Linked DNA regions of Homo sapiens. The protein of the gene in region 1 purifies or fractionates together with the protein of each later gene. This does not show direct contact. Each region holds a gene or a part of one and is shown on either strand. Other genes may lie near its edges.

Region 1 (3,915 bases):
TGGTGTGATACGTGTGTAACTGTGTGCTATGTGAGTGGTGCAAAGTCAGGGGGGATGTTAAGAACAGAAGAACTATGGGAGCTGATGGAAAGTTCCACCTGGTTTTCCTGTCCAGGCAGAGCAAAGGATGTTACCTATTCCCAAAACGCTTTGTCCCAAGGAGTCCTTCCTCAAAACTTCTATCTTGGACTTTTGGAAAATACCCCTGGAGACAGTGTAATGTTGTTTAGTTTTGTACTGCAGAAAATATTGGACTTGTTCAGAAAACCTCACTTGAAATGTTTCTTCTACTGCTTAAGATTAAGATAGTGTATTGGTAATACTTTTATTTTTCTTATGGTATGGAAATCCTTCCTAGAATAATGACCAGGAGAAGGGATGATTTACCTATCCAAAAATGATGTTCATAGGTCTACTAGGTTCCAGGCACTGTGGGGAAGTGGCAACATTTAATGTTTTTTTTACTATGTGGAATTGTGGGGTTTGAAACAACATAGTTTGATTAGCAATGTAGGAAAAAATCAAACATGTAATATTAATAATAAGTTTTATTAAAACAGAAGGAGATTCTAAGTAGCTGGGTTCTTGCCACATCAAAAGATAAAACTAGGTTTCCTCTGATCACTTTGAACTGCTTATGAGTGAGCATCATAGCCAGAAACTAAGTCCAAATCAAAAGCATCTACAATAGCTGCATCGGCCTCCACTCTGACAATGCCTCCGCCACTACACTTAGGCTGGGGAGAAACATGTGTCTGGGTAAAAAGGGAGATAAGGGAAACATCTGTTCTCACAATATGGGCTTGTTATCATAGCTCCTTTAAGTACCGCAGTGCTGGCTCCAAGAGCATATTTTCTCCCGAACGGAATCTGCGCAAGGCCTGGTCGATTTTCTGAGGGCTCAGGGACAGGTTGTAAATGAGATTGTAGTTGTGAATGAGGCGTCTGGCTCGTTCCTTCTCCAGAACTCCTGTGATTGGATTGGGTAGGAGGAAGGTTTTTTAAAGAGGATGGAGGGAAAACAGAGAAAACTATATATTAGCTTGAATGACTTCCAGGTAAAGACTAAATGCTAATACTTTGCAATTTTAAGCTTCTTAAAAATCAAGTGGCATATTAAAAAATATTTATAGCTGTGGGTATGCATCACAGATTTCAGGAAGAATCTGAGGGTGATTTCAGGGGAAAGAGAACAAGATGGGATCCAATAAGATCCATAGATAAATTCTAAAGCAATTTAGGCTTTTCTTTGTAACTTTAAAACTTGTAAGGCCAATTTTTGAAACACTGGGGGTGCCTAGCAAAAGTAACTTCTAATTGTCCTGAGTTCTTTTTATCTTGTTAAAGTCTCCAAACACATTCCTAAACATGCAGGGATTAAACAGCTTATTTTCAAAATGCATTTCTCTAAATGTATTTATAGATGTTCTTTGGTATCTGCAGGGATTAGGTCCATAATATTCCCCTCCCCAACAGTGATACCTACACCCATGGATGCTCAAGCCCCGATATAAAATGGAGTAGTATTTGCATGTAACCTATACACATTCTCCCATGTACTTTAAACCATCTCTAGATTACTTGTAACACCTAATACAATGCAATTGCAATGCAAATAGTTGTTATACTGTGTTTTAAAATTTGTACTTTTTTTTGTTGTCGTGTCATTATATTTTATTTCTATTTTTTAAAATATTTTTGATATGCAGTTGGTTGAATCTGTAGTTGCGGAATACAAAGATGCAGAGGACTGACTGTCCTGTGACTCCCTCCAGCTTGCTGTGCAATCACAGGTGAAGCATCTAACTTCTCATAGCTCAGAGTTTGAATCTGCGTAATAGAGGTGGTAATGTGTATGACTGCAGGATATGCTCTGGTACCCACACATTATATATGCCAATACCAATGTCAGTATGCTTTCCATGTTAAGATTGGATAGATTTTGATGGCTGTTGGGAGGAGTCGCAGTGTAGACCACGGCATCACTGAAGATCAATAACTCACTCATAAGCCCCTAATTGCAAATATCTATGTGTCAGATACTGTGCTTGGGAATACAGAAGATTTAGAGAATTTTTCTGCTACCTCTGGAAGTTCTCTGTCCCGTGGGGGAGAGAAGTTATTCAGAAAATTAACTGGGATACAACAATAATAATTAAACAATATTTAAATATAAAATTTACTATGTTCCAGGAACTGCTCCAAGCATTTCACCAATATTAACTAATTGAATCCTTACAATAACCCATTTCACAGAGGGCAAAACTAAAGCCTAGAGACTGCAAGTCTCTTGATTGCCTAAGGTTAACCACTACAGTACGTTATGGAATGAGGGAAAAGAGATTGCTTCAAGTAGGGGTCTATTTATTTATTTATTTATTTATTTATTTATTTATTTATTTTTTATTTTGAGACAGGGTCTTACTCTGTTGCCTAGGCTGGAGTACAGAGGCACGATCATGGCTCACTGTAGCCTTGATCTCCTGGGCTCAAGGGATCCTCCCACCTAAGCCACATGAGTAGCTGGGATTGCAGGTATGTGCCACCACTCTCAGCTAATATTTTTATTTTTTGTAGTGATGAAGTTTCACTATGTGCCCAGACTGGTCTGGAACTCCTGAGCTCAAGCAACCCTCCCCCTAATGCCTTTCAAAGTGCTGGGATTATAGGCATGTGCCACTGTGCCTGGCCTCTTTTACTCTCCTTCATATGTGCGAACTGTAAGAGTGATGGTGAAATTCCTTCCTAAAGAATCCAGAGGCAGTGCCTTGTCATTTTGCGGAAAGCCACTACTAGTCCATTAGAGTTGGGCAATGGTAGATACTTATCATCTCAGTTTAAGATACCAAATATTACTCATTTTTAAATGTGCAAGTACTATTGTGCATGGTGCCACCTTCTCAACTACTCTCTAATCGCTATTTTTAACAGTAGGCCACAATAGGTGGGGTCCTAATTTATTCTGTTCTATTCCAGTGTGTTCATTTTCTATTCTGTTCTGGTTTGTTCATTGCCTATTTATTGTCTGTCTCTCTTATTAGAACAGTGGTCCTTTCATTTATGTAAACCTCATTCTTTGAGTTGGCCAATTGCATCTTCGAAGTTTTCTGGATAGGATGGCTGCTCTCAGTCCTGTCTAGCTTTGCTTCCTCTGGCCATTTCTCCACACCCTGCCTCTGGAAATATAAGACATGGATTTGGAATAAGTTTATGACTGTAAGAAAAAAAATGAGTGAGGTGTGGTGGCATGCACCAGCTAAGGTGGGAGGATCATTTGAGCCTGGGAGGTCGAGGCTGCAGTGAGTTGTGATCATGCCATTGCATTCTAGCCCAGGCAACGGAGTGAGGCCCCTGTCTTAAATAAATAAATAAATACATAAATACATAAATACATAAATAAATGTCAAAAGAGGAAAGAAAGAGGGAAAGAAGGAAAAGAAAACAGAGGTAATTAAATTGTGTGAAAATCAATAAAATATTAAGTTCACACAGTATCCAGTACTAGTAATCACTCAATAATGTGAAATTTTACTATAGGATAATTATAATAATTATGTCATCAACATTATTTTAAAAATATATAAACAGTATATATGTAATTGCTTATTAAAATAGATAGCATTTAGTTTATATTTTAATTAAAAATTAAAAGTTATGTTAAAAAATACATCTAGGAATCACAGTAGTATTTTCTATCTTCTAAGCTTTACCATTGATAGAAGATGCCTAGAGTCAAACAAAAAGTCCACTGAATGAAATTTGTATCTGTCTAATTTACTCTGTCATTAGGGGATGCCCAGAACAGCTGCATAAAATAGCCCTTACAATCCATCTTAGTGTTGGAAAGCCTGTCTTTTCTAACCAGAACCAAAATAAAAAAATAATAAGAATCCTTTTTTTTTTTTTTTTTTTGAG
Region 2 (5,869 bases), on another chromosome or scaffold:
GTGTTCCACCAAGCATAACAGCTTGTTCGTTTTTGTTTTCGTTTGGCAGACTTTGGTGGGGTATTGACCTTTACTATCAGAAGAGACTGCCTTTACTGCCAATCTCTGATCCTTATGGGACAACCTTAGTGCCAGTTTTTTATTATTTTATTTTTTAAGAGAGGGTCTTGCTCTGTCACCCAGGCTGGAGTGCAGTGGCACTCACTGCAGCTTTGAACTGTTGGGCTCAAGGGATCTCCTGCCTTAGCCTTCCAAGTAGCTGGGATGACAGGGCAAACCATTGTACTTGGCCCAGTTTTTTTTTATATATATAATAAATTTTATTATGTATATTTAAGGTGTACAACACGATAATATAGGATATGCATATAGATAGTAAAAAGGTTATTATAGTGAAGCAAATTAACATATCCATCACCTCACATAGTTACTCACTTCCTTAAGGTATGGTCCCTATTCAGATTCTTAGACTTTTTAAATGGTGGTAGATGGTTTTGAGTTGGCCAAGAGCAAAGAAGTATTTATGAAACAAACCTTGAACAGTGGTGAGTCTGTGTGTAGGGTATGCACTACTGTATAATATTGGAGGAGACATTTTTCTAAACAAGCTGTCAAGGCAGCCCCTGGTTGCACCCTACTTGGCACTCCCCAACTTGCCTGTGCCCAGCACTATGATGCTAAGAGAACAGAGCAGGGTAGAATTACCCAGTCACACAGAATTTCATGTAGTTACTCATATACAGTTCTCATCAGAGCCACATGAGAGCAGCAATATCTGCTTTTTTCAGACGGAAAAATTAAGAGAGTTAATAATTGGCAGAGCTGGGAGTTAGAACCCAAGTCTCTTCACTAAATTCATTGCCTCTTCTATTGCCTTCCTAAAGAAGGACTTCCCATTTTTACTTTCTTCTTTGTACTTTTCAGATTTTTTTTACGATGAGCACAAATAATTTTTACAAAAAGGATATAATTATTTTCAAAAGACAAATATAAATTTAAAAAACAGTAGGCAGCTAGTTGAGTGCCCCCAAAGCTTCTTACCTTTATGAGATGAAGTGTCCACACATGCATAGTTTGACAGCACATGGGCACATATGATTAGGAATATGAGTGAGTGGGGCTGGCATCAGGGAAGGCCCCAGTGGGCTGAGATTTTGTGGTAGAGGGAAGGCAGGCTCCTAAATTGGACTTGAACTGGAACCAGGAGTGTAAGAATCCCACAGCAGGGAGGCACTCTAACAAGGGTTGAGAGGCAGGGAGGGTGGGCCTTTTTGACTGACTCTCGTGCCTGGCGGTCTGAGAAACAAGTAGAGGGTCTGGGGAGCGGACGAGCAGGCATCAGGAGGCGCCTAGCCCCACAGGGCCCTTGGTGGGTGCCAGGTTCACGCACACTCATTGAATGAGCAACCTCTCCCGGGAGCAGGTGGCTGCAGTCCGAGAAGGGATGTCCTGGATTGTTCCTGTGCCGCTGCTGTCCCTCCTCACAGCAAAACAACTGGAGCAGATGGTGTGTGGGATGCCCGAGATCTCTGTGGAAGTCTTGAAGAAAGTGGTGCGGTACCGTGAGGTGGATGAGCAGCATCAGCTGGTGCAGTGGTTCTGGCACACGCTGGAAGAGTTCTCCAATGAGGAGCGGGTGCTTTTCATGAGGTTTGTGTCAGGAAGATCTCGACTACCAGCCAACACTGCTGACATTTCTCAGAGATTTCAAATCATGAAGGTTGATAGGGTAAGTAAGCTATTCTTTTTTCCTTTGTAATGTCTGCCTTATTGCTTCATTGTTGTTTTTGTTGAGACAGGGTCTCACTCTGTGGCCCAGGCTGGAGTGCAGTGGCATGATTTTAGCTTACTGCAACCTCCGCTTCCTAGCTTCAAGCAGTTCTCCTGCCTCAGCCTCCGCAGTAGCTGGGACTACAGGTGCGTGCCACCACGCCTGGCTAATTTTTTTGTATATTTTGGTAGAGACGGGGATTCACCATGTTGGCCAGGCTGGTCTTGAACTACTGACCTCAGGTGATCTGGTCACGTTGGCCTCCCAAAGTGCTGGGATTACAGGCGTGAGCCAACACGCCTGGCCCTCTGCGCCTTGTTGCTTTTATGTTGGGGAAAACAAACTATGACCCTCAAGTAGGCCTGCCGATTCATGCTTATTAATACTTAGAATTTCCAGATTAATGAAAAAAATCAAGCAGTAAAATTTGTTTAGAAATATCATTTAGCTTCAGTGGGAAGAGTCCTAAGTGGATGAAGAGAGCATACTACAACCAACAACCTTCCCTAAATCTTCCAGCATCTTCCTGAGTTAAAGCTGAACTTGGCAGAAGGATCATCATACTGCCTCTTCCTGTGCTGAGGCATGGCCTTGTTTGTTTTCATGAAAATATTAACCATTAACTGGTGGGTGTGCCCCAGAAGGAACCCAAAGATGTGGGGAGCAACGATAACCTCTGTGCCCACTTGTGTTGTGTGCCTTGTGGAGCAGGCAGGGCTGCATCTCTGCCATCTGATGAAAGGCCCCAGCTGCAGAGCCCCAGCCCAGCTGTGATTTTGACAGATGGCTTAGGAATAAGAGGGCTTAGAGTCTGAAAAGCACACTGCTGCCAGAGTCATCTTTCTTAAGCACCTGTCTGACCATGTCACTCTCCTCCTTTTAGACCTTTCAGAGACCCCCTTTGTTGACTCCGAAATAAATGCCAATGACCTTAGCTGCCTTAAACACTTCCACAGTCTGGCCTCTGCCCCACTTTCTGATGTGACGTCTTGATACTTCTCATGTTCTGGTCATAATGGGCTGCTTGCCTTTCTCCCCAGTAGACCAGGCTGTTTTTAAAATTCTGTGCTTTTATGTAACCTGTTCCCTCTGCTTTAGTAAGTCCTTCTTCACACCCCTTTCCTTCTATCTCTGGCAAGCACTTACTCATCCTATAAGCCCAATGCCAGTCATCTCCTCCAAGAACCCCTCCTAGATGCTTTCCAGGAGTGCCCCTACCATTGCTGAAGGCAGACCTAGCCAGACTCCTTCTCTCCACCTCCTGAACACTGGGTACAGCCCTCAAACCCAGAACTTACTGCATTCAGTTAGGAGTGCCTCTCCTCCCTCTGTCTCCATCCCCACTCTTCACAAGCCCTCTCTCCCACATGAGCTGGGCAGTTCTCTGAGCAGGGCCCATGATGTTTGTTCAGAAAACAGTAAGGGAAGTGGGGCCTCTTCACACACAGGCCCTTCCTGCCAGTTTAAGTGTCTGGCTTTCTGGTGTAGCCAAAGCTATTCCTCCCTGTGCTGCCTCCTGAGGCTGCAGGCTGCTGCTCTGCTCCTGGGCTAGGCTTGCTGGAGAAGCCACGTGCAGGAAGGATTATAAAAGAGCCTTTCCATAAATTTTCTGCATGACTTGCCAAGAACTGTAAGTTGTAAATCTGTTTTGTTGCTTCAGAGAGAAGTAGGAAGGAGGAAATGGCTCATTTCTACTCAGCTCTGGAAACAACCCTTGCCTTATATCTGTCCTGGGCTACTCCTGCCGTTCTAGGAGTTAATCCACCACTAATCTCCGGTCTCAGGGTTGTCAGCATCAGTAACTGACTACCGTGGTCGGTTCCTCTGTGGCTTTTAGATCATTTCTACAGTACTCACATTTAGGTCATCAGAGCCACCTAGTGGCACCTCCCTTCCTTGCTGCTTTCAGTTTTTCTGCGTTGAGCTGTGTCATCACTGGCTCTGGTGCATTTGGGCTGCTGGGCCATCCACCTCCCATAGCAGGACATGTGGCTTACCTAGGTGTGGGCTCTGGGGAGGAGGGCTGATTTCAAGAGGAGGTTGAGTGAGAGAAGACAGGTTCTTTTTTTTTTTTTTAAGCAAACGTTTTAAAAATTTATAAAAACACTATAATGCCATTACTATTATTACAAATTGTTTAGAAAATAGTTATGTTTGCAAGGAGGGATAGGGAACGTATATAATCCTGTCTCTCCAGTAGTAGCTATTTTTACCTTTGTGAAATTCCTCATAGTCTTTGCCTCAATTGTACAAATTTTTATATGATGTATCTAGAATTTTTTCTGCCTTTAACCTCCTAATGTATCCTGAACACCTTTCTGTTTTGCTGCCAGTCATCATAATTATCATTTTAAATGATGCATCACCGTCAGTTGAATGGATGGACTGGAGTTTAATTGACTGCCCCTTCCTTATGTGAGCTGTGCGAGGCAGCCATGGCGCCTGCAAAGGAGGCAGAATGCACATGAGGACAGGGAGAGGAGAGGGGGCAAAGAGGCTCCCATGGCCAGCTGCACCTCACAGTCGTTCTTTCCATTCTACCTGCTCTGTGGGGGCATCCCTGCAGCTGGCTTCCAGTCTGCACCCTCTTGGTGGATGGGTATGAAGGACAGGTGCCCTCTTACTACACTCTCATCCTGTGCCAGGCGCTGTGCGTAGTGTATTCTCTCAAGCAATCCTGCCAGTCAGAGCTTCTCCTCACTTTACACACACAGGCACTGGAGGAGGTGAGGACAAGAAGGAACATCTTCACCCAGAGCCTCGAGGGCCACGGGGCAGTAGGGCCTCAGCTCATTCTATCTGGCCCAGTCTCTGTGTCCACTTGACTTAACCATGTGGCCATGTTAATTCCATCTTGAAGGCAGGGAGAGGTCATGGGCAGCCCCACTCCCCCTTATGGCACTCTGATGTCCCCAGTCACGGCTCTGGGTCTCTCTCCACAGCCTTACGACAGTCTGCCTACCTCACAGACCTGCTTCTTCCAGCTGAGGCTGCCCCCGTACTCCAGCCAGCTGGTCATGGCCGAGCGCCTGCGCTATGCCATCAACAACTGCCGCTCAATCGACATGGACAACTACATGCTCTCGAGAAACGTGGACAACGCCGAGGGCTCCGACACTGACTACTGACCGTGCGGGTGCTCTCACCCTCCCTTCTCTCCCTCAATAATGCTCACTTCTGATTTGATGTTGATATACTTTTATGGTAACTACATAGATGTTATAAGAACATAAACCAACATTATAAACAATGGCCACATTTAGTTACTCTAAATGTAACAAAGAAATTAGATGTTTTTATTTTTCTGTGATTGTACAAAAACAACAAAAACGAAGTGCTCTCAGTCAGGTTTTTCCCTCCATATTTTTGGTCACTTTTGATAAGTTTGCATGAAACCATTTTGGTGCATTTTTAGTTGGGAATGGTACATTTTTGTAAATCCACCCAGTGAACATGAAATTGTACATTGTGTATAATTGTTCATTAGAAAGGACAGTTTTACATGAATATTCATATATTTATTTTGTTTTAATTTGAATTGCCTGTTCAGGGTTCCTTATGCAGAGAAATAAAGCAGATTCAGGAATTGGAGCGTGGCTCTTGGTATTGCTTCCTGCGGAGCTTCTGACTAGGGGTTACCATCGAGGCAGACATTAGCCCAGAACAGAATGAGCTTCCAGGCTGGTCTTGCTCTGATGGCTTTTTGACCCATTCAGAAACATTTCTTTACATTGAGGGTGGGCTTCACTTGGAAATAACGTATCAGAGAACCGTGTGGTTCTAGGAGATCCCTCTGGGTTGGAAGCCCCTATTTTCCATTGTTCTTCTGTCATCCTGGGTCTCTCTGACTTTGTTCCCTCAGCTGCTCCGCCCCTCTCAGTACCACGCATCCTTCTCTGGACAGCCCCAGCTACCTCATGTGGAGGGCGACTCTACCAGACAAGGAGGAAGAGGACCACAGTAATGCCATCTGGCCCTTCCTATGAAGAACCTACAAAGACAAAATGAGCACGTGATGGAATTAAAGAACAGGGTAGTTTACAACATGTCTCAGTGGGGAGGGCAGCCAAGTGGAAGGTGTTACAGAAAGGCCAGCAA
Region 3 (7,038 bases), on another chromosome or scaffold:
TGGTAGGTAAACAAATGTTTGTCGAATAAATAAAAGAACACCTGAATAAGTAAATGAATGAACGGGTAAGTGATTTTGGAACGGACAATTTGGGGTTTGGAAAGAGGGTAAAGGAGGTGAAAGGAGAAGAAGAGAAATGACTGGTATATTTAAGCAGCTTGTTTTGTTACCCTTGTTTATGTGGAATAAAGTTGTCATTTCATTTCATCAAAAGTTTATTGAGCATCCAGTATGTGCTAGGCACTCTGCTGGATGCTAGTAATACAAAGATGAAGATGAAAACAACACAAAAACAAACCCCACTTCCTTACTTACCCCTCCCCACCCCCAATTTAAGGCAGATTTGGCTTAAGCCTGGCAAGCTGGCCCCTCAGGGATTCAGCACCAGGGTATGGCATGTTCTCATCTCACCCTAACCTTCACCTGTGCATCTCAAGGCTGACCAGCAGGTACTCCTTATCCAAGTCCTGCTGCCTCTTCCACCTTCTTGAGAAACTTTTCCCCTACATGCATTATCTCATTATGGATGAGGCACCTGGGAAGTTTAGGGGAGCTGCGAAGGCACACCTGCTCAAATGAGCCTGGGGAAGTGCCGAGGGACAGGGAGCTGAGACAGGCATGCTGTGGGGTTCAGGGCAGAGGGGGCAAACTAGAAATGTCAGTGCCTTTGGGGCTGAGACAAAACTTGACCTGGTGTGGAGGTGATGGGTAACTGGGGCCTTGGAATTGCTCCATGGGTTGATGGCGAATCAGAGCTGGAGTTTAGGAGACTAGGGATGCAAGGACCCTTGGAGGCATTAAGGAGGAGGGAATGGAATACACAGAGGGCCTCCTTCTCTTTCAGCTTTTTAATTGCCCTCTCTCCTCACACAGTAGATTACTGCCACTCCTATGAACTGTTCAATAGGCGGTGGCATGGGCATGTCCTGGCTACACAGCGGCCCAGCCTCTTTATTTTGATGTTAGTGTGATTAGGGAGTCTGCCCTTTTTCTGTGCCCTGGGACCTGAGCATGTGGGAGCAGGGCAGATGGGTGGCAGGAGGCCAGGGGTTGGATCATGTTCCCCCCAAATGCTGGGAAGCAATAAGCCTCCTCCTCCCCCCACCATTTCTCTGGAGATTAGGACTTATTCTCACAGCTGGAGGAAGCTCAACAACTTTCCTGAGGACAATGATTGTTTGAAAGGCTTGTTTTGTAAGGAAGCCAGGAGGAATATATGAGTTTGATGAGCTAAAACAGTTCCTCATTTGGTCTAGTTTTCGGGCCAGGGGAGTAAGTGAAATTCACTTCTCTATAAGAATAAGCCCATCCATCTCTTTTATTCATGAACAGAGACAGAAAGAGTGCTTGGCATGGCATGCCTCCGAGGGAGGCTGTGGGAGGAGGCCAAGCTGGCAGGCTCGGGTTCTTTGCCCTTGCTAGCGCCCAGGTCAGAGGGAAAAGGAATGTACTCGTACCCTTCCCTCACCACCTTGTAGGTCCCCAGGTACCAGGTGCCCAGGGAAGAAGGCCTTCACAATGATCCCCCCAGCTCAGAACAGCCCCTGCACACCCAGTAACCGGCATCTGGCTTCTCCTTAGCTTAGTGCAGCTGTGGATTCTGGGAAAGTGGCCTCTCTAATCTGAACTTGCAAAAAAAAAAAAAAAAAAAAAAAAAAAAAAAGTGCCCCAGCACTCAGGCATTTGTTCAGAGGGAAGGGTGGTGGGTGGGAAACAACACAGCTCCCTAGGAAGAGCACAGGATAGTCACGGGGGTTAGGTTACTGATGTTAGTTTCCATAAAACCCTTTTGGGTATTGGGCCAGAAATGTAATAATCTATGTGGTCCTAAGAGGGCACAACCTATACCAAGTGAGGACACAGCCAGTAAACCGGAAGCAAATGCGACCCGGTTTCACCATATCAACACTGCCGCCTCCGCGCACCCGCCTCCGTCTGCGCATGCTCATACACGTTCACACCCGAGACACCAGCGCCCCCCCGGGACCTCCCCTCGTCCCCAGCGCGCCGCGCCCGGGCTTCCCAGCCCCAGCTTTCCCCCGGGCCACTGGCCGCAGACCGCGGGCGCCTCTCAGGGGATCCCGAGGCGGCTCAGGCGCTGATCTCCACCGGGCCGGCCTCGTCTTGCTCGCGGATTATGTGCACGCCCGCAGTCCGCAGTGTGCGCGAGGCGCTGCGCGAGCGGCCGGGCGAGCTCGGGGCCCTGGGCGGCGACGAGTGTGTCCGGCCGGTGGCTGGGGAGCGCGCTGGGGAGCGCGGGTAGCGGCGGGCAGAGCGGATGGGCAGCCCCGGCGAGCGGCCGGGCACGGCGGGAGACACGGAGTAGCCGGGCGGGCCGGGCTCCGTCGCGCTTCGAGGCTCCGGGGCCGGGTTCTCCTCGGTCTCCGGGGAGTCCTGCAAGGACACGCGCCGCAGGGGTCAGGGGACAGTCAGCCCAGCCTGGGAGCGCGCCTGGTGTTAGAGCTTGCTGGAATTCCGAGGGGAGGGACCTAGTTTCCCTCTGCACGCCCACCTCCTGGAAGGCTGCAGACAGGTCTGGTTTTCCTGGCGATATTCCACACTGAGCATGGGGCCTCCTAGCACATAATAGGTGTTAAGTAAATGTTGAAATGCGATGATTTGAGTGCTTTTCCCCTTTACTCTCCTCTTTCCACCCGTCGTGGACAGCCTGGGACAGTTAGTTGTGGAATACTGGGGAAATCACCAGAACTGGTGTCCAAAGACCTAGGTTTGAAACCTAGATCTGCCACTCATTGACTTGTTTAATCCTGAGCAAGTCATTTAATCTCACAGCCTTGTTTTTTCTAATCTCTAAAATGTGCATGACACAAATATTTCACAGGGTTATTCTGAGTACTATAAAGCAGGGGTCCCCACCCCCAGGCCGAGGACTGGTACTGGTCCATAGCCTGTTAGGAAGGGAGCGGCAGAGCAGGAGGTGAGCGGTAGGCCAGAGAGCAAAGCTTCATATGTATTTACAGACATGCCCCATGGCTTGCATTATCGCCTGAGCTCCGCCTCCTGTCAGATTCGTGGCTGCATTCGATTCTCGATTCTCGTAGGAGCACACACCCTATTGTGAATTGAGCATGCGAGGGATCTAGGTTGCACGCTCTTTAAGAGAATCCAATGCCTGATGATCTGAAGTGGAACAGTTTCATCCTGAAACCACCCGCATCACCATCCATGGAAAAATTTTCTTCCTTGAAACCAGTCCCTGGTGCCAAAACCGTTGGGGACTGCTGCTATAAAGGGATAGGAATATAGTATGGCTCCCTAGCATCAGGCATGTGGGAGGGGATCACTGCATGTTTCTGGGCACCCAGTCCAGAGCCGCTCACCTTGTCCTTCAGGATATAGAGTGCCATGGGGTTCTTCCGTTCCTGCTCACCACTTCGAGGGAGGGTGTCTGCTGCACAGGGGAGAGAAGCGGGTGGCTGGCCCAGGTACAGACTCTCCCCACCAGCCGGCACCTACTCTCTGTGCTTCCCGAATGGCCCGCCACAACCTCCACCAACATATCTGAATATCCTGGCTCCTACCTTGGCCAAACCTTTCCCTCCTCTGCAGTCTTCGTGCAGTTGGTGGGGGAAGGGTCCCTGCAGAGCTGTTTTCCTTGTCGCCCAGTTCTGCCTTTTCCCAGCAGCCCACTGATCTGATTGTTGATGGGATGGGTGATTGGGTGGCTGGGAGCTCACCTTCTGGTTTCAGGCGGTCATCATTCTGATCCATGTATTCCAGGGAGTTTTGCTTTTCTAGCTTCTTCTGTTTCCTGTGAATCAATTCAGCCCCACTATGAGCCGAATTATTGAATGTGAGTAGAAGATCCAGTGGGGACACAGGGAGGGATCTGATGGCCATAAAAGAGGCCTTGTGACAGGAAGATGGGCTGGGTACAGTTCATGAGCTTTGGAAGGAATCACATCTAGGTTTGCACCTTGAGTCTGTCACTAGCGTTGTGACTGTGGGCAAGTCATTTAACCAATCCGAGTCTCAGTGTCATTATCTGTAAACTACAGATAATCATACTTAAAAGGTAGCAGGCTAACCACAGCCACAGTGCCTGGTCCCAAAAAAGGTGGTTGGCCAGTGAAAAAACCTATTGTTACTGGTGCTGGGGTTGTGGGGGCTTTGGAGCACAAGATGCTGGTGCATACACAATGGAAGAATGGATCTCTCGGAAAGAGATGCAAAACCCTGGGAGGAAAGGCATTTAAAGAGACTTAAGAAAATAATGGGGCTTAGGTTTGGGATGGATTGAAGGACTCAGGTGCTCAGGAGAGTTACCCAGACCTTTTGGAGGGTTTCCAGCAGGCACAGACTGTCACCAAGGTCACAAGGAGGAAGATGCCTCCTGTAGACAAGATGATGTAAAGGGAGCTTCTTCCTAGGGAGAGAGAGAAGCAGAGAGGCAGGAGGGACTTCAAAGGGGCAAGATGTGGTGAGCAGAACTTCCTGCCATGGATGGAAGAGAGGGGGAGCCCCAGGCTGCATGCCTGGCTGATGCTGGTGGTGGAGCTTGTACAGAACCCACTGGCTACCTGTTGGTGTCCTCCATGGATAGTTGGCCCATCTCTGTTCCCCTCCCCCCAGTGACATTTCTTTGGGATGTCCTCAGTCCCTCATGGTCACCTGCCTCTTGGGGCTTTGAGTACTAAAGGAAAGCCTGCGGGGAAACTCACTGTATACGGTGATCTTGACAGGCAGGCTGCGGCCCTGGCTGATGGGGTTCTCCACCATGCAGCTGTACAGGTCGTCATCCTCCATGAGCACGCGGGTGATGGTGAGCACCTTTTGGTCGGGGGACAGGAGCATTCTCGAGTCATTGAGGAGGGGCTTGCCATCCTTCAGCCAGGTGTAGCTGGGCTTGGTGCCATTCTCATGTGAGCAGTTCAAGGTGAAGGCCTCGCTGAGCTCCAGCACAGTGGTTGAAGCCACCAACACCTGTGGCCTCGAAATGGGCACTGAGCCGCAGGAATGGGGGAGCCTGTAAGTCATTGGCTAAGAAGTGTCTCCCTTCCCCTTTTTAGCTCCCTGCCTTCCAACACACCTTTAACACTACCTTCCAACTCAATCTGTGGGCTGAGAAGACTTCAGACATCCTAAGTCCAGTTCTTTCCCATCGCTTATTCATTCGTTTCACTGACTATTTATGGAGCACCAATTAGGCATGGCGGGTACAATGCTGAACAATGCAGACATGGTGTTGCCCTCATTCCCTCTTTCCAAATGCCTTGCCATGAACCCTGGGCTTTAATGTCTTAAACTGACCCAGCCAGGAAGATATTTCAGTTGGGCTAAGCCTAGGTCCAACTGTTTAGGTTCAAATCTTGGCTCTATCACTTCTAGCTGTGTGACCTTGGGCAAGTTATTCAACCTTTCAGTGGCTCACTTTCCTCATCTGCAAAATTAGGATAATGATATGAACTATCACCAGACTATTATAAGCATTAAATGAGTCAACATATGCAAAGCACTTAGAATAGTTTCTGGCACATGGCAATCACTCTACATGTTAGCTGTGCTGTGCCTGTCTGCCAACTTCTAATGTCCACTTGCCTCATTCTCAGCTCCCAAGTGCCTTTTGGGTTGGTTTTCCCTCAGTCTAGCTGGTGCGCTGGGCAGACCTTTCCCTAGTCCCACCTGCCAGTCTTGCCTCTTTCCCTGCCAGAGCGCTTTACCATCTACAGTAAGGTTGATGGTCTTCTCCCCAGTGAAGGTGTCGTCGGTGATGGAGATCTCGACCTCATAGGTGCCCTCATCGGCCAGCTGCAGGTCGCTGAGAAGCAGGGAGCCATTTTCAAAGAGTCGGATACGGTCTCGATAGTCAGGCCGCAGGGTGCCGATGACCTCTGTGCCAATGGACTGCACCACGGTCACTGGCTTGTCCCGCTTCAGCTGCCACTTCACTACAGGCCTGTCGCTGCTGGTACTGCTGTACTGCACAGAAAGCAGAGCCGACTTCCCCACGGTGCCATGGATCAGGCGCACGGGGCTGGTGATGTTCACCCCCTCCAGGGGGTCTGTGAACAGAGGCCCATGAGGAAGAGGGAAGCATCAGGCCCTGGGCTCCTTAGCCCACTCCCAACTTTAAGCCCTCTGATCTCCCAAAGCTTCGCCTCTCTGGCTCTTCACTCCCTGCCAATCCTGGCTTCTTAAGCCTGGGTGCTATCTCCTCCCCCACAGTAGCTCTGTGCACTTCTGCCCCTTTGTTCTCTCTCACAGCCATCTCATGGCCTTCAATGCTTTTTCCACCTAGCCCTCTGCCTCTCTGGCACTTTGTCTATTGCCTTTCTCTTGTGGCTCACCCACACCCTATGCGCTCCATTCATAAAAATATTTATTGAACATCTCCTATCTGCCAGACACTTTTCTATGTCTTTAGGATATAGCAATGAGCAAAGCCAACAAAAATCCCTACCCCTATGAAGCTTATAGGTCATTAGACCTCTGGGTGAATTTGTCAGATCTTCTTGATTGGGGATTGGGAGGGTGAGGAGATGGAGAAAGCATGGAACACAGATTCACAAAGAAAGGAGCGGGTCGTGAGACAGTGCCAGTAAAGGGAAAGTTTAGGGGCCTGAAGACCACTTTCTAGTTATACCGAGAGCCTCTTCCCGTTTTTTTTGCAGATGCATGTAGCATCTTACTAGGCTCACTCAGTGCAGAATAGTCCTGCAACTAGTAAGGTGGTTTTGGGAATTCACCCAAACTCCAGCCCAATCTGTACCCCTAGAAGAAGGATTTGCGATGGGTAGAACAAAGAGCTTAGAATCAGAAAAAGCTTTTTCATGCTGGGCTCTACCTCTTACTGGCTATGTGGATTTGGGTACTCATTCTTCTCATTTGTAAAATAAGGATAATAATAACAAGGCTGGGCGCGGTGGCTCACGCCTGTAATCGCAGCACTTTGGGAGGCCAAGATGGGCAGATCACCTGAGGTCAGGAGTTCGAGACCAGCCTGGCCAACATGGCAAAACCCCGTCTCTACTAAAAATAAAAAAAATTAGCCAGGCATTGTGGCATGTGTCTGTAATC
Region 4 (6,892 bases), on another chromosome or scaffold:
AGAGATGGGGTTTCACCATGTTGGCCAGACTGGTCTCGAACTCCTGACCTCAAGTGATCTGCCGTCTTGGCCTCCCAAAGTGCTAGGATTAGAGGTGTGAGCCATAGCACCTGGCCCCTGATGCCTTTTAAATTATAAGATAGGGCCAGGCAGGCGGAAGTTGCAGTGAGCCAAGGTGGCACCACTACTGCACTCCATCCTGGGCAACAAGAGTGTAACTCCACCTCAAAAAAAAAAAAAAAAAAAAAAAAAGGGTATCAGGCCAACAGGGACCAGATGTTTCCTCATCAGTAGATACTGCACCCACCCAGATAAAGACATAAACAAGACACTCTTACTATCAGTCCTTACCAGAGTACTCTATGGCCATGAAAAGAGCAGAACACCACCAGGTCAAAGTGGCCGTTTTACAGACAGTCTTGCTGTCACTTGTGAGAAGCCCTCCACATCTGCTGCTGCAGGCTCTGCCCACATCAGAGATGCTTCCTTGCCAGATTCTCCTTTTCGTTGAACTGGTTAACTTTTTTTCCTCTCCTCTTTCTCTTGATGTGGAATGTTTATAACATTTATGCAGTGGTCAAGTATACTATTATGTATGGTTTGTAATACTGACTGACTTAAGGAGAGACTTGAGCCTGTGTGCCCACAGCTGTGACTGCCAAGTGAATGGGAAGCACTAAGAATTGCCTCCTCGGGATCTCTAGTAGTATACATAACATGCTCCAGAGGGCATGGATTTGTCAGACTTTTTTTTTAAATAGGGTTTTTAAGAACAGTTTTAGATTTAGAGTAATTGAGAAGATAGTACATGGAGATCCCACATACCACATGTGTGGCTTCCCCTCTTATTAACATCTTACCTTAGTGTGCTACATATGTTATATATATATATATTTTTTTTGAGACAGAGTCTCGCTGCGACGCCCAGGCTAGAGTGCAATGGTGCAATCTTGGCTCACTGCAACCTCTGCTTCCCAGTTTCAAGCGATTCTTCTGCCTCAGCCTCTCGAGTAGCTGGGACTACAGGTACGTGCCATCATGCCCAGCTAATTTTTGAGTGAAAGCCAGTGCACCTGGCCCATTTGTTATGATTAATGAACCAATATTGAGACACAAGTAACTGAAGTCCACACTTTGACAGTTTCCTTAGGTTTGCCTCATGTCCCTAATGTGGTATCCATCAGAACACCCCATTACATTGAGTTATGTGTCTTTAGGCTCCTTCTCAGACTTTCCTCGTTTTTGATGACCTTGACAGTTTCGAAGAGTACTGGGCAGATATTTTGAAGAATGTCCCTCAATTAAAATGTGTCTATTATCTCCTGGTTAGACTGGGACTGCAGGTTACAGAAAGGAAGCATCTAGGGGTGAAGTGCCACTGTCACCCCATCACATCAGGGACACACACTGTCACCTCGACTATAACTGTGAGGCTGACCTGCGTCACTTGGCTGAGGTGGAGTCTGCCAGTTTTCTCCACAATAAAGTGGCTCTTTCCCTCCTTTTCTTTATTGCACTCTTTGGGAGGAAGTGGCTATGTGTGGTCTACACTTAAGGAGAGGGGAGTTACGTTTCCCTCCTTGAGGGTGAGTATCTACAAAATTTATCTGGGCAGCTTTTTTTTTTTTTTTTTTTTGAGTTAGGGTCTCAGTCTGTCACCCAGGTTGGAGTGCAGTGGTTGCCTGGCCTTGACAGCTTTTTAATAGTTTAAAATGAATTGAGGCTGGGCGAGGTTGCTCATGCCTGTAACTCCAGCACTTTGAGAGGCCAAGGCAGGTGGATCACTTGAGCCCAGGAGTTCAAGACCAGCCTGGGCAACACAGTGAGACCCTGTGTCTACTAAAAATACAAAAATTAGCTGGGCATGGTGGTGTGCCTGTAATTCCAGCTGCTCAGGAGGCTGACATGGAGAATCACCTGAGCCCGGGGAAGTTGAGGCTGCAATGAGCGGTGGTCTCACCACTGCACTCTAGCCTGTGTGACAGACTGAGACCCTGCCTATAAAAAAGAAAAGAAAAAAGAACTGAAATAAGACCCAAGTCCAACATTAGCAGAACCTCTCTAGGATGTCCACAGAAACGACTCTGGGGTTCTGAGGAACACAGTCTAGGCAAACCTGGGCACATCCCCTCAGTCCCACAGTTGTAAATGTATTGTAACACGTAACAGTTGTGAGATTCAGGCGCGGTCTGGGTCTCTGTTCCTGGAAAGTGTGATCCTGTGGGTGCAGCCCCTGCTCGCTTGGCTGTGTTGCCTGCCTGGCCCCTGCTCTAATGAGCCCACTGCCCAGAGTTTGCTCAAACCACCCAATTCCGAGTCTGGGAACCAGGAGACCGCTGGACACCCCGCTCACCACACAGAAGACTGTGGCCTGAGTCAGGAGAAGGAAGTTTCTGGCGGTCGAGCTTCCACGGCTTCCTGAGGGAGGTTGCAGGGAGCCGAGATCGCGCCATTGCGCTATAGCCTGGGCGTCGCAGCGAGACTGTCTCAAAAAAAGAAAAAAAATTCTGAGCGAGATTCCAGGGCTTCCTGAGGGCGCGTTTAAGTTGCAGTTGCTGAGGAGGCTGCAAGGTGAGCTTGCGTCAGCGAGGAGCCACTCCAGCACGCTCGGGAAGGGCATCGTTACTGCTGCAAACAAGCACACGGCCCTCCACGACGAACCTTTTGCAAGTGAAGGCGCACGAACAGGCCCGGAGGACTACAAAGAAACCCAGAAACCAGACTTGGACACATGAAATAAAGGGGTTAGCTGAAGGAATACTCCACAGTTAAGGACGGCCTGCGCGAGGTCACCGGCCCTGTCTTGGTTTTTTGCCACTTCGCTCCAGTTAGTTTCCCAAGTTCCACCTACGCGCGCGCCAGCTGAGAAAACGCCCACCCCGGCGGTCCCGCCACAGGTCACAGGCGGTGCGGACCCCGGGACTGTGTCCGGGCTTCGGTGTCCAGAGAGCTCCAAGACACCCAAACCTTCCGTGGTTTCCACCTCTGCAAGCTTATGTTCCGCTGAGCTCAAGCTGAGGGACGACGACCTCATGCGACGTCAGTTTCCCCCTGGGACCACGAACCCACGGCCCCATTTCTCTTCTGTCTACTAAAAACCTTTTCTTTTCTTTTTTTTTTGAGACCTAAGACATCAGTGAGACACACGAGCAGACACGGGCTCGGTCGGGAAAGGCGGGAGCTCCAAGCGGCGGGGCCTGCAGGTCCAGGCGGTTCGCGGGCTTTCTGACCGCATTCGGCCGAGTTCTTCTCTGAAGACCCAGGACCCCCGGCCGAGGGGGCGCATTCGGCGGGCTGGTGGCGTAGGATTTTGTTTCGGGTTCCCAGGGTCCCGGCAAGGGTGAGGGAGCCCTTGCGGATCCCCTGAGATCCACCTCAGCAGCCTCCTCCGTGGTAGGCCTCAACTTCCCGCGGCGGCCCACAGCCAACGACTAATGCCTGAGCGGGAGAAAACGGCCTGGCCCTGTCCGGGTGGTTGCTGAGCACCGTTCGGCGCCGCCCGCGCCTGCAGGGAGCCCGGCCCGCTGTCCTGGTGGACACAAAGCCCAGGGGCCGCCCGCGCGGGACCAGCAGCGCGAACTTTTTGCCGCTCGGCCAGCCTGGCAGGGGATTTTAAAATCGGCCAATCACAGCGGGCGCCAGGCCTCCGCTTTCCGCTTACTGGTCCTGCCGTAGGAGGCGGGTACGTGAGCGCACCAATCTGTGGCCGGCGAGCGTAAAGGGCGGGGCTCCGCCCAGGCTGCACCGCCCAGAGCGCGCGTGCGCGAGACCGGAAACGCAGCCCCCTGATTGGCGGCGCGTGTCGGGGGCGGGGCCGCGGCTGCGTGACAGTTGTCGCGGGGGGAGGGCGAGCCCAAGCGCGGGGGAGGGAGTGTAAATAGAGCGAAGGCTGCTCTGTGTCAGCCCCGTCACCGCCGGGCGGCCCGCGCGGAGTCTGAGGGAGATGGAAGTTGAGCAAGAGCAGCGGCGCAGAAAGGTGGAGGCCGGGAGGACGAAGGTAAACATTAGGGGCTTCTTCTCTAGCTGCTCTGGCGTGAAGTCCTAAGGGCGGCTCCGGTGCCCGCCACCGCCCCCTGCCAGGAGAGGACGCGGTCCGGCGGAAGCCGCCGCGGAGGTCTCGCTTTTTCCCGCCGGCTCCGCTGGAAGCCGCCTCCTGGCCGCCGCCATCTTGAATCCGCCGCTCTCCGCCAGGTCCCGCCCCCGCCGCGGCCACAGCCAATCAGCGGCCGGGACGCGCGGCGCCTCTCGGGCGGGCCGGGGCGGGGCTGCGCCTGCGTCGGGGGGGGTGGGGCGCGGGCTGGGCGCGGTGCACGCCGGGGCGGGGTGTGGCTGCAGGGCGGGGCTACAGGGGCGTGGCGTGGCTGCACGGAGGGGGTGGGGCGCGGCAGGCGCTGGACCCCAGGCTGGATCTTCCAGTGGCTCCCGCGTCCTCCGGGACCGGGTGGCCTGGGGCGGGCGGCCGGTATTCGGGTGGCTGCTTGGTCTAGGGCCAGTTTCCTGCGCGGCCGGGGCCGGGGGCGTGGCGCGGGTGGCCTGCAGCGCCTCCCCAGGGTGCGCCTTCGCCTCGTCCGTCGGAGATGCTTTCCCCGCGCGTTTCTCGCGGCGTTGCAGTCCTTACTGTGTGAAAGGCCCCCGCGGCGCTCCCGGCCGCCGTCTTCTTCCCGCGCCCTTGGGCTCGCGTCCTGCCCGTCCGGGCCTGGCGTACGCTGCCGGGAACCCACGCGGCGCTGGCGCCGGGCGCCTTCAAGGGACGCGCTCCCGTCTTTCTCCCGCCCCGGGTTTCTCCGTGAAAAAGCGCTCGGTTTGATGGCCACTGTCCTAGGTTTCGTGGGAATAAAGCGCGCAGAGCCCATGACTCGGGGGCAGGAGAAAGGGAGTCCCGAAAGCGCGAGGCGGAACCGCGGGAGCAGGCCGGCCTCTGCGAGGTGCGCGCCGCTCCCCCCCAGGATGTTCTGGCTGGGGTGCTGGGGAAGAGCGGGGCTCCCGGGCACGGCGGACAGGGGACGCGGGGCTAGGCCGGGGAAGGGCTGAGGCGGGCAGGAGGGGAAGGGGAGCCCGGAGCCTGCAGGGAGCTGCGAACAGGAGCAGAGCTCCCAGGAGGGTGGAGGGGGGAGGGAGGGACAAGACGCCGCCTGTAGGGCGACGCAGGCCGCAGACCAGGTCTGTGCTATATCCCGACATGGATAGGTGTGGTGGAGGAGGACATGAAAATAAACGACATGAGGTTGACTTTGAAGGAAATATTTCCTTGAGAGACCATTTTCTTGTGTAAATGGCCTTGTGTAATTTTTCTGGGTCCATGAGCTTGTGTACTTGTGTTATCATTTACACAAATGTGTGTTCCATGCGTTTGTTTTTGTGGCCACAGTTGTCTTTTGAGGGAACAGATGTCTCCCCGTGAAAGGCTGATGTGGGATCGATCGCATACCTCTTGAGTAAGACGTTAGCGGGAGATGAGGCTCGCACATAGTCTCAAACTCTCGGATTTGAGGACTGAGCAGAGCTAGGCTGTGCCTTCTGATGGGCGATGCTCTGTGGATGTCCCTGGTGCTTTGGTGAGCTGTGTCATGAAAAATAGAACATCTGATTCCATAAAGGAAGATGTGAGATTGACCTGGCTTAATTAATTTTTTGCTATTTCTGTATCTTGTCTCAGAATCTATGGCTAGGAAGTTTTGGCTGGGCTATATATTTCTTCAGTTGGGGGAAAATTGGGGCAAGAAGGGAGAGATTTAGCTTTTATATCATTTTAAAACTTAAATATGCCTTGATTAAGCTATCAATCTTTTATACAAATTTTTTTTAAAGTTTTATTTTTCTGTAAACTGCCAAGGGCTAGGAAAGCTATTCTGCCAATCAGCCGTATGGTTTTCTTTACCAGGCATAATTAGCAGTCCTCATTGTTAGACCCCTTGGATATAGATATTGATGAAGGCAGTGTTTGTGGAGAGCCATCTGTTGGCCAGGTGTGGCAGAGTAGACTGGGTCAGCCCTCGGGCCTCATGGTCCCCACCAGTCTGTTGACTTTGTGGTTCTGTTATTTTTTTCTCACTTACCTTTGCCTTTACTACTTATCTACATTTTTGCGCAGCTTGCTCACTTCCGACAGAGAAAAACAAAAGGTGACAGTTCGCATTCGGAGAAAAAGACGGCGAAGAGGAAGGGCTCGGCTGTCGATGCGTCTGTCCAGGAGGAGAGTCCGGTAACCAAGGAGGACAGCGCACTCTGTGGAGGAGGGGACATTTGCAAAAGCACATCATGTGACGACACCCCTGATGGGGCAGGAGGGGCCTTTGCAGCTCAGGTAGATTTGCTCAATGTTGTATTTGAACATTTCGCTTATCTTCTAGTGATTTCTAGTGTGATTTACTAAAGATGGTCTTTGGTCTGTTTTTGCCTTTCAAAAGTGAGGAAAGAGGGTGTTATTTTAGTTTATAAAAAGTGAGGGCCGGGTGCAGTGGCTTACGCCTGTAATCCCCGCACTTTGGGAGGCCGAGGCAGGCGGATCACCTGAGGTCAGGAGTTCCAGACCAGCCTGGCCAACATGGAGAAACCCTGTCTATACTAAAAATACAAAAATTAGCCGGACATCTGGCGCACACCTGTAATCCCAGCTACTCGGGAGGTTGAGGGAGGAGAATAGCTTCAACTTGTGAGGCAGAGGTTGCATTGAGCCGAGATCACGCCAATGCACTCCAGACTGGGTGACAGAGCGAGACTCTCTCTCAAAAAAAAAAAAACAGTGAGTAAATTTTTATGGTTTTATTCTTTTTATTTTATTTTTTATTTTTTTGAGATGGATTCTCGCTCTGTCTCCCAGGCTGGAGTGCAGTGGCGCGATCTCGGCTCACTGCAAGCTCCGCCTCCCGGGTTCATGCCATTCTCCTGCCTC

The links.
Region 2: the proteins of C1orf87 (region 1) and HERC1 purify together in Homo sapiens (affinity purification with mass spectrometry; 2 studies listed by BioGRID and IntAct, with this or other methods). This does not show direct contact.
Region 3: the proteins of C1orf87 (region 1) and HEPACAM purify together in Homo sapiens (affinity purification with mass spectrometry; 2 studies listed by BioGRID and IntAct, with this or other methods). This does not show direct contact.
Region 4: the proteins of C1orf87 (region 1) and PCNT purify together in Homo sapiens (affinity purification with mass spectrometry; 2 studies listed by BioGRID and IntAct, with this or other methods). This does not show direct contact.

The regions. Positions count from the first base shown.
Region 1 is NC_000001.11:59,989,864-59,993,778, forward strand, and holds the end of C1orf87 (uncharacterized protein C1orf87), read right to left. Parts: intron 971-3,915; coding exon 810-970; 3' UTR 531-809; downstream 1-530.
Region 2 is NC_000015.10:63,608,111-63,613,979, reverse strand, and holds the end of HERC1 (probable E3 ubiquitin-protein ligase HERC1), read left to right. Parts: intron 1-1,423; coding exon 1,424-1,729; intron 1,730-4,713; coding exon 4,714-4,899; 3' UTR 4,900-5,362; downstream 5,363-5,869. UniProt on the Homo sapiens protein: Involved in membrane trafficking via some guanine nucleotide exchange factor (GEF) activity and its ability to bind clathrin. Acts as a GEF for Arf and Rab, by exchanging bound GDP for free GTP.
Region 3 is NC_000011.10:124,919,047-124,926,084, forward strand, and holds the end of HEPACAM (hepatic and glial cell adhesion molecule isoform 1 precursor), read right to left. Parts: intron 6,024-7,038; coding exon 5,682-6,023; intron 4,965-5,681; coding exon 4,683-4,964; intron 4,388-4,682; coding exon 4,294-4,387; intron 3,773-4,293; coding exon 3,699-3,772; coding exon of another isoform or gene 3,543-3,698; intron 3,413-3,542; coding exon 3,342-3,412; intron 2,395-3,341; coding exon 2,092-2,394; 3' UTR 972-2,091; coding exon of another isoform or gene 705-971; 3' UTR 159-704; downstream 1-158. Other genes in the region: putative cancer susceptibility gene HEPN1 protein, read left to right, coding at 705-971. UniProt on the Homo sapiens protein: Involved in regulating cell motility and cell-matrix interactions. May inhibit cell growth through suppression of cell proliferation.
Region 4 is NC_000021.9:46,320,286-46,327,177, forward strand, and holds the start of PCNT (pericentrin), read left to right. Parts: upstream 1-3,870; 5' UTR 3,871-3,943; coding exon 3,944-3,997; intron 3,998-4,381; exon of another isoform or gene 4,382-4,925; intron 4,926-6,002; coding exon of another isoform or gene 6,003-6,091; coding exon 6,092-6,304; intron 6,305-6,892. Other genes in the region: uncharacterized protein C21orf58, read right to left, coding at 2,354-2,453; uncharacterized LOC128092249, read left to right, coding at 6,003-6,206. UniProt on the Homo sapiens protein: Integral component of the filamentous matrix of the centrosome involved in the initial establishment of organized microtubule arrays in both mitosis and meiosis. Plays a role, together with DISC1, in the microtubule network formation.